Linked DNA regions of Homo sapiens. The protein of the gene in region 1 purifies or fractionates together with the protein of each later gene. This does not show direct contact. Each region holds a gene or a part of one and is shown on either strand. Other genes may lie near its edges.

The links. The genes of interacting proteins can lie anywhere in the genome.
Region 2: the proteins of NPR1 (region 1) and PARL purify together in Homo sapiens (affinity purification with western blotting; one study listed by BioGRID). This does not show direct contact.

What each region holds. Positions count from the first base shown.
Region 1 is NC_000001.11:153,684,317-153,689,231, forward strand, and holds part of NPR1 (atrial natriuretic peptide receptor 1 precursor), read left to right. Parts: intron 1-647; coding exon 648-768; intron 769-1,489; coding exon 1,490-1,564; intron 1,565-1,806; coding exon 1,807-1,884; intron 1,885-2,329; coding exon 2,330-2,434; intron 2,435-2,699; coding exon 2,700-2,771; intron 2,772-2,883; coding exon 2,884-3,040; intron 3,041-3,273; coding exon of another isoform or gene 3,274-3,296; exon of another isoform or gene 3,297-3,317; coding exon 3,318-3,473; intron 3,474-3,736; coding exon 3,737-3,905; intron 3,906-4,636; coding exon 4,637-4,783; intron 4,784-4,871; coding exon 4,872-4,915. UniProt on the Homo sapiens protein: Receptor for the atrial natriuretic peptide NPPA/ANP and the brain natriuretic peptide NPPB/BNP which are potent vasoactive hormones playing a key role in cardiovascular homeostasis.
Region 2 is NC_000003.12:183,842,383-183,847,297, reverse strand, and holds part of PARL (presenilin-associated rhomboid-like protein, mitochondrial isoform 1 precursor), read left to right. Parts: intron 1-2,971; coding exon 2,972-3,067; intron 3,068-4,850; coding exon 4,851-4,915. UniProt on the Homo sapiens protein: Required for the control of apoptosis during postnatal growth. Essential for proteolytic processing of an antiapoptotic form of OPA1 which prevents the release of mitochondrial cytochrome c in response to intrinsic apoptotic signals.

The sequences.
Region 1 (4,915 bases):
GAGAAAAATCACTGCTGGTTGAGCATATAATGTGTGCCAGGCACTTCCACGTACACTATTTCTTTCTTTCTTTTTTTTTTTTTTTTTTTTTTTTGAGACGGAGTCTCGCTCTGTTGCCAGACTGGAGTGCAGTGGCATGATCTAGGCTCACTGCAACCTCCGCCTCCCAGTTTCAAGCAATTCTCCTGCCTCAGCCTCCCATGTAGCTGGGACTACAGGCACATGCCACCACGCTCAGCTAATTTTTGTATTTTTAGTAGAGACAGGGTTTCACCATGTTGGCCAGGATGGTCTCGATCTCTTGACCTCATGATCCACCCACCTTGGCCTCCCAAAGTGCTGGGATTACAGGCATGAGCCACTGTGCCTGGCCTCATGTTCACTATTTCTTTTCATTCTTATAATAGTTAAGAATGAAATAGATATTGCGGCCTCATTCCCAAGTAAGGACATTGAGGTGATTCCCCCAAGGTCCCCAGTAAGGCAGAATTTCCCCCAGCCATCCTGATTCTCAGTCCAGAGGATAGAATTCCCCCTCCATCTCTGAGTGCATGGTGTGGTCCCACGGCTCTGAGGAGGGGCTGCTGAGCACCCTGCCCTGGGTCAGCGGCTCAGCCACAGGCTCAGATGCAGCCTTCGTATCCCAGGAAGATGCAGCTGGAGAAGGAACTGGCCTCGGAGCTGTGGCGGGTGCGCTGGGAGGACGTTGAGCCCAGTAGCCTTGAGAGGCACCTGCGGAGTGCAGGCAGCCGGCTGACCCTGAGCGGGGTAAGAACGCTGGTGTTTGTGTTGGGGGGCAATAAAGGAGAGGTGGGTACAAGGGGCAGTGCCTGAGGGATAGGTAAGGGAGCAGGATTCTAGTCCCAGCTCTGCTTTCACTTGCTGTGTGACCTTGAGCGACTCATAGTCCCTCTCCGAGACTGTCTCAGATGATGATTACAGCAGCAGAGCCTCCCTCACAGGGCTCTTTTAAAGGTCAGAGGAGATAGTACCTGTGAAAACACTTTAAAAAAAAAAAAAGTAAATGAGGAGGAAATTTTATGATGTGGAACATAAAGCAGGGTGGGCCAGGCACAGTGGCTCACATCTGCAATCCCAGCACTTTGGGAGACCGAGGCAGGAGGATTGCTTGTGCCTGGGAGTTCAAGACCAGCCTGGGCAACAGAGCAAGACATCGTCTCTACAAAGAATACAAAGATTAGCAGGGCATGGTGGCGCATACCTGTAGTCCCAGCTACTCTGGAGGCTGAGGTGAAAGGATCATCTGAGCCCAGGAGTCTGAGGCGGCAGTGACCTAGGATAGCACCACTGCACTCCAGCCTGGATGACACAATGATACTACATCTCAAAAAAAAACCCAACAACAAAAAGGAAGGGTGACACAAAGATAAGGCAGGATAAGGCAGGGAAATAAAGACCAGAGCACAAGCAATCAGGATGCAGACTGGGCCCACCGGCTGACCATTCCTCCTGCTCTCCCTCCTTTCAGAGAGGCTCCAATTACGGCTCCCTGCTAACCACAGAGGGCCAGTTCCAAGTCTTTGCCAAGACAGCATATTATAAGGTGGGCCTGGGGAAAGATCACTGGGCCTTGGGACTGGGGCAGGAGTGTACTCTGATGGAGGACTGGTGGGGGGTTCTGAGGGAAGGAGTAAGCTGGTGGGGAGCAGCAGATGGGGGCCCTGGGGGTGGGCTATTGGGAACAAGTGAGGGTCCTGAGGGCAGGGATGGGCTGTCGGGAGCAGCTGGAATTCCCAGGACATGGGACCATGCTCTTCACAGTGACAGTCTCCATTCCATGCCCAGGGCAACCTCGTGGCTGTGAAACGTGTGAACCGTAAACGCATTGAGCTGACACGAAAAGTCCTGTTTGAACTGAAGCATGTAATGTGGGGAGTGAGGCAGTGGCATGGAGAAGGGGCCCTCGGGGACGCAAGGGAGACTGGCCAACAGAACTAGTTATGGAGGGACCTCAGGGTACCCCAAGAAAGGGGCAGGGACTGGAGCCCTGGGATGGACCTTCATCTTGTGGGTGGGAGTGGGGGTATCCTAAGCTAGGAGAAGAGACCACTGGAGATAACCTGGAGGAATCTTGAGGGGCCATATGTGATGTCCCTGGGGGAGAGAGGGCTTAGGATGCAGAGGGAGTAGGAGCAGATTCTGGGGAGGGTGGGCTAAAGGACATGGGTGGGAATCACCAGGGAAGATCTTAGTGATGGTTGCAGAAAGTGAATAAGGAGTTAAGAAGAGTGAGGGTCCCTGAAGCTAGTGAGCAGCTTGGTGAGGAGCGAGGTCTCTGTCAAGCTCCTGATGCTGGTCCCACTTGCAGATGCGGGATGTGCAGAATGAACACCTGACCAGGTTTGTGGGAGCCTGCACCGACCCCCCCAATATCTGCATCCTCACAGAGTACTGTCCCCGTGGGAGCCTGCAGGTGAGGGGGACAAGGGGTGTCAAGAAACCTGGGTTCTAGCCCTGGCTCTGCCCCTGACTGGCCATAAGACCCCAGGCATGCCTCGCCCTCTTTCTGACCTTTCTGGCCCCATCTGTAAAAATGGGAGTTGGGGAAGGGCAGTGGCACTAGAGTCAATCCAAAGTTTTGTCCTGTTCTACCAGTTCACATCAGTAGGACCCTGCACCCTCCTCCAACTCCCAGGGGGATCTGCAGGGGATTGGTCTGACTCTTATTGCCCCAGCAGGACATTCTGGAGAATGAGAGCATCACCCTGGACTGGATGTTCCGGTACTCACTCACCAATGACATCGTCAAGGTATGCCCCTAAGCACCTATTGGATGTGTAGAGCAGGGGCCAGGCATGCTTCTCCTGGCCACGGGTGTAGGTCCCACTCCTGGCCAATACCTCTGCCCACTCACATTTCCAGGGCATGCTGTTTCTACACAATGGGGCTATCTGTTCCCATGGGAACCTCAAGTCATCCAACTGCGTGGTAGATGGGCGCTTTGTGCTCAAGATCACCGACTATGGGCTGGAGAGCTTCAGGGACCTGGACCCAGAGCAAGGACACACCGTTTATGCCAGTGAGCCTTGACTCTTGAACCTAACACCTGCCCCCAGCACCACCCAGTAGGGAGACTGATGCAAGGCCTCTGATGGGCTTGGGCATGCTTGTCCTGACTCCAGCCTCAATTCATTCACCCATGAAAAAGGGAAGGCCAGACGAAGTGGTTTCTAAGGCCTCCTCTAGCTCTAACACTCTGTGATGCATCCAGATCAGTTTCGGCCACACCCTTGTTTCCCCCTCACCCCTTAGCTTTGGGCTCCCTCACTCGGTGACTACCGACCTCTGACCCACAGAAAAGCTGTGGACGGCCCCTGAGCTCCTGCGAATGGCTTCACCCCCTGTGCGGGGCTCCCAGGCTGGTGACGTATACAGCTTTGGGATCATCCTTCAGGAGATTGCCCTGAGGAGTGGGGTCTTCCACGTGGAAGGTTTGGACCTGAGCCCCAAAGGTGAGAGGAGCACACCTTCCTTAAACCCAGCCACAGTCTCAACGAACCCCAGCCCCAGGGAGAGGGTCCCCTGGCAGCACCACCACACCTTCCTTCTGTAATGGGGTTCAGTCACCACCCTTTGACCCATTGCTGCCAGTGACCAGTCCCCCGCCCCCATGCCTTGGTCTTGGACTTCCCCTGCCATCTCAGCTGGTTGCCCCAGTCTCTCACTAGGCCCTTGGCCAGCCCCACCCCTCAGCTCCTCTACCCCCCCAATACAGAGATCATCGAGCGGGTGACTCGGGGTGAGCAGCCCCCCTTCCGGCCCTCCCTGGCCCTGCAGAGTCACCTGGAGGAGTTGGGGCTGCTCATGCAGCGGTGCTGGGCTGAGGACCCACAGGAGAGGCCACCATTCCAGCAGATCCGCCTGACGTTGCGCAAATTTAACAGGTCCCTGGTGTTTGTCATGGATCCCCCAGGCCCTTCCTCCACAGCCACCATTTACCTAATGCTTCTGGCTCTGGCTTATCCCAGCAGTGGCAGAGGGAGACCACTCACCTCCTCCCTGTACATAGTCAGCTCCAGCTCAGCACAGCCTCATGACCCTCTTCGCAAGTACAGCATGACTCAGCTGTCCCCACAGTCCCCTGCCATTCATGCCCCTTCCCTCCACCATCGACACCCCACACCCTTCCTGCCCACTCGCCTTGCTGGCCTCTAGACTTCTCAGCAGTGTGTAGGATAGATGGGCCTCCCGCCTCCTGCCCTGTAGGCTCTTGGCCCTCCACGGGAGCTCCTGCCCCACCCCTTGATTTCCCTTCCCCAGCGTGCCCACCAGGCCCAGTTCCTCCAGACACACCCTTCTGTGGACATCACTTTGTCCGCAATTGACCCTTGTCATTCTCCACCTCCTTTACCTCCTTCTAACTCACTGGGTTCAACAAAGATGAACAAAATGTCCATATGTCTGAAGCTTCATACTTGACCTTGGGGTCTCAGAAAAGAATTGAACTTTCTTCCTTCTGTTTTCCCCTGCTCCCCGGTATCCTGCTATGCCCTCAACCCTGAGCGTCTCTAGAGACCTCACTGCAGTCTGGAGGGGGAAGTGCCTAGGGGCGGGCGCTCACGGTAGGCTGTGCTGCTCCTCTCTTACCACCCCCACCGCCACCCTCTGCCCCCAGGGAGAACAGCAGCAACATCCTGGACAACCTGCTGTCCCGCATGGAGCAGTACGCGAACAATCTGGAGGAACTGGTGGAGGAGCGGACCCAGGCATACCTGGAGGAGAAGCGCAAGGCTGAGGCCCTGCTCTACCAGATCCTGCCTCAGTGAGTGCCTGAGTCTGGGGACCCCCCCCAACACAAAGCCCCTGTCCCGACCCCCAACTCTGATCCTGCACCTGCCCTGACCCCTTAGCTCAGTGGCTGAGCAGCTGAAGCGTGGGGAGACGGTGCAGGCCG
Region 2 (4,915 bases), on another chromosome or scaffold:
CGTGAGCCACCACACCCGGCCCGTTCAACCCTTTCAGGTAGATTTTATTATTCTCATTTTACAGAAGAGGAAACAAGCTGAGCGGTTAGGCCTCTTCCCCAGGTTATAATGTAAGTAGGACAGAGTCACTTCTGCTGGACTCCTTCACCCATACTTTTAGCCAAAATGCAGTACTGCCTCAGTAGGCCTAGGATTGCCACACATCCTCTCATGCTCATCCGCTTCTGGGGACCAGCATATGCTGTTTCCCAGCAAGGAAGCCGTTTTTATGTGGTGTCTGAAGTCCTAGAGTGACCAAGGTCAAAATAAATCCTCCTGGCTACCCATGTCTTGATGTATAGTAGAAAGAGCACTAGATTAGGAATTCTGGCTTGGCCACTGAATTTGGCCCTCTGACAACTTGTACCTTTTAGAGCCTGTTTTTCTCATCTATAACTGGCCTTCAGAATAGGGTTTACAAAGAAGAAAGTATGTGCATTTCACTTTTCTTATTTCTTTTAAATTTGTTAAGTGTGTCTTATGAATTTATAGTGGTTCACGTACATAATTTGTTAATAAGTATACATATATGGGATGTGTCTGTTACTAATGGATGGTGTTTACTAATGGGGTGCCCCATGAAAGCAGTTTGATGACCACTGGCTTATGAAGTAAGGGATTTTGGCTACAGTCTGTTTCAGTGCCAGTACTCATTATTTATCAGAAAAGCTTCTTGCGTTTGGATTGAAAACTTAGCAGTGTTAACTCTTTGTCTACTGTTAACCTCAATGTCTTTGGTTATCTTTCCCCCCGCTTTTTTTTTTTTTGAGACAGTTTCCCTCTTGTTGCCCAGGCTGGAGTGCAATGGCGTGATCTCGGCTCACCTCAACCTCCGCCTCCTGGGTTCAAGTGATTCTCCTGCCTCAGCCTCCTGAGTAACCGGGACTACAGGCATGCACCACCACGCCCAGCTAATTTTGTATTTTTAGTAGAGACGAGGTTTCTTCATGTTGGTCAGGCTGGTCTCGAACTCCCGACCTCAGGTGATCCGTCCGCCTCAGCCTCCCAAAGTACTGCTGGGATTACAGACGTGAGCCACCGCACCCGGCCTTTATCTTTCATTTTTTTTCATGTATTTTCCTTTATTTTAATCACTTTATCCAGAAACATATCCTCGTCTTGACAGTGCTGTGGTGCCTGTGGTTTCCAGAAGCTGGGTGTGCTGTGTGTCTGTGGTTTGAGGAAGTTGCCCATGGAACTGACAGAGGAAGCAGAGTAGTCGTTGCCATTTTTCAGCCTAGTAGGCAGGATCAGGGACCCCATCTTGCTCTCTTTGCCTTGAACCACAATTAGAATAAAACACCAAAGCCCTGACTGATCATGATCATAGCAATCCGATCTTTATGATCATGGCCAGACCATTCTCAGGTCGTCTTTACCCTAAGATATCAATCACTGGGTATGACAACCTAGACCTAAGGGTGCACTCTGGGTAGTAAAGATGATTAACTCTCCCAAAGGAATCTAAGGAATCCAGAGCAACACGAATCACTGCTCTCTTCCTATAGGGTAAACCTCCCAAGACTCCAGTCCCTGTGAGGAGGCTCTGCCCGCCTGCCCTTCCCAGGGTTCCAGGCTCCACATTGGGAGGTGTACACAGTGCTCTTCGCTCTTCATTGCCTTGTGTATGATCCCTTTTCCCATCTTTGCATAAATGCTGTCCCTCTCACCATCTTTAAAAGAGTTCTGGGTAATTATTTACCAAAGGTGGTATAATGCTGTCACAGTCCCTGCTAGTGAGACATCTGATACAACTGATGGAATCAGTTCAACAAAATGCAGTAAAATTTTATTTAATGTACTACGGAGAAAGAAAAAATGCTACCAGTTATAAGATGCATCCTGATTTCAGATATTAAAATGGAAAAAATGTCTTAAGATCTGTGAAAAATGTAGCTTCCTTTCCCACCTCTCAAGTGGGAGAGCAAAAACTGGACAGACTAGAAATGCCAGGGGCTAGCTGAGAACCTTACAGAATGAGCAACTGCGGAAGCCACAGGTAACACCGAGATGTAGATCAGCTGCCAGGGACAAGACAAAGAATGTTTTCTAAAGTAAATCCTCTTACCAGTATGTTATTGAAATCAGTCCTTATTGGCATCGAAGAAGGTGAAAGTGCTACTTGCCTGTTGCCTACAGAGACTGGAGGAATGACAAATGTTTATTTTAATTCAACAAGTAGAGGAATACCTGCTATGTGAAGGAGTTGTGGCAATTCATAAAATTAATATATTTTTTGAAGTTTGTAGTTTTCAATAATAATTTCTTATCTAAAATGTAACAAGTTAATTATATTATCGAATAAACCTCAATTTCGTAGTACTAACAACATCAACACTTACAGAAAAAGGAAAGTCACTCAACTCCCACATGTAAACAGACTTTAGAAGCAGTTGCAGAGGTTTTCTAAATTATCCCTGAATTCCTATCACATGACTATTTTTCTCAGACATGTTGACCTTCACCTACACAGATGACTCACATATGTTTCCATAAGCTGGCAGTAAGTTTAAGAAGCATACCATGCCCTGAGGAAAAAGAAGTAATGTTAGCTCTTCTACTCTTGGCCAAAGAACCTAATTCTGTATATTACTTCTGTCTTTGGTTTGGCTATTATAGACAATAAATTATTGATCTGATTATAATTGAGAAAAGTAAGCTCTTCTAAAGAAGTAAAATATGGATCTAGGGAAAGGAAGTTAGCTCCCAGAGCATTTACAATTTCCCAGGAATTCTGTGACTTTACCAACCCTAGGCAGTGCTGATACTTTAAAAGCATTCATTTCACTTGCTTTTTTTTGGCTCACCCCCTATCCCCCAGGTATACAGTACTCTTACATAATTGTGGAAGAATCTTACAAGGGGGTAATGTAGATCAGACTTTCCTGCTTTCATTTTTAACCTCCCTAAATTATAAATATTTATTTTGTAGGTATTATAGCTGCAAATGTCCTTGTATTCTGTTTATGGAGAGTACCTTCTCTGCAGCGGACAATGATCAGATATTTCACATCGAATCCAGCCTCAAGTAAGTCTAACTTGTGTGAATTTATTTTAAGGTAGAAATAATATGAAAGAAATATGCTTTAGTTAATGGAAGTGCTGTAAAAAAGACGAATTACCTATCAATAGCTACAAGCAAAATGCAGAGGATAGGCTGTAAGCTCCTTCACTGAGGACAGGGACCTCACCTCTCTTTTTCTTTTTCTTTGTTTTTTTTGAGACGGAGTCTTCCTCTGTTGCCCAGGCTGGAGTGCAGTGGTGCAGTCTTAGCTCACTACAACCTCCACCTCCCAGGTTCAAGTGATTCTCCTGCCTCAGCCTCCCTAGTAGCTAGGATTACAGGTGCCCGCCACCACACCCAGCTAGTTTTTGTATTTTTAATAGAGACAGGGTTTCACCGTGTTGGATAGGCTGTTCTTGAACACCTGACCTCAGGTGATCTGCCTGGCTCGGCTGGAGTGCAGTGGCGTGATCTCAGCTCACTGCAAGCTCCGCCTCCCGGGTTCATGCCATTCTCCTGCCTCAGCCTCCTGAGTAGCTGGGACTACAGGTGCCCGCCACCACGCCCCGCTAATTTTTTTGTATTTTTAGTAGAGACGGGGTTTCAACATGTTAGCCAGGATGGTCTCGATCTCCTGACCTCGTGATCCGCCCGCCTCAGCCTCCCAAAGTGCTGGGATTATAGGCGTGAGCCACTGCGCCCGGCCAATTTACTTTTTATTTTATTTTATTTTATTTTTTGAGACAGGGTCTTGCTCTGTTGCCCAGGCTAGAGTGCAGTGATACGATCTTGGCTCACTGCAACCTCTGCTTCTCAGGCTCAACTGATCCTCCCACCTCAGCCCCCAGGAGCTGGGACTACAGGTGCATGCCACCATGCCCAGCTAATTTTTTTTGTTTTTAGTGCAGATGAGGTCTTGCCATGTTGCCCAGACTGCTTATTTTTTTCTAATCAACTTTTGCCATAAGGACAAGTTGCTTTCATTGAACTGAGAGTTTTTATTGGTTGCTTACTAAGTAGAAAAGAGATTTATTAAGACAGCTTTTTGTCACTTTTAAAAATGATGTCTTAAGCTGGGCATAGTGACTCACATCTATAATCCCAGCACTTGGGGAGGCTGAGGCAGGTGAACTGCTTGAGCTCAGGAGTTCGAGACCAGCCTGGGAAACATGGTGAAACCCCATCTCTACTAAAAATACAAAAATTAGTTGGGCATGGGGTATGTACCTGTGGTCCCAGCTACTCAGGAGGCTGAGGTGGGAGGATCACTTGAGCCCTTGAGCCTCAACTTGAGGAAGTTGAGGCTGCAGTGAGCCAAGATCGTGCCACTGCACTCCAGCCTGGGGCGACAGAGCAAGACTCTCTCCAAAAAAAAAAAAAAGTCTTAAAAATAGCTGTTTTTGTTTTCCATGTTTGTTTCATAAATTTTTTTTTTTTTTTTTTTTTTGAGATAGAGTCTCGCTCTATGGCCCAGGCTGGAGTGCAGTGGCTCAATCTTGGCTCACTGCAAACTCTACCTCCTGGGTCCAAGTGATTCTCCCGCCTCAGCCTTCCGAGTAGCAGGAATTACAAACGTGCGCCACCACACCTGGCTAATTTTTATATTTTTAATAGAGATGGGGTTTGACTATGTTGGCCAGGCTGGTCTTGAACTCCTGACTTAGTGATCCGCCTGCCTTGGCCTCCCAAAGTGCTGGGATTACAGGCGTGAGCCACTGCGTCCGGCCTAATTTTAAAAGTTTAAAATGGATAATTTTTATTGGCTGTGTGTTTCATGATTACCAGACTATGTTTCTCTCTCTTGTAGAGGTCCTTTGTTCTCCAATGTTGCTGTCAACATTCAGTCATTTCTCCTTATTTCACATGGCAGCA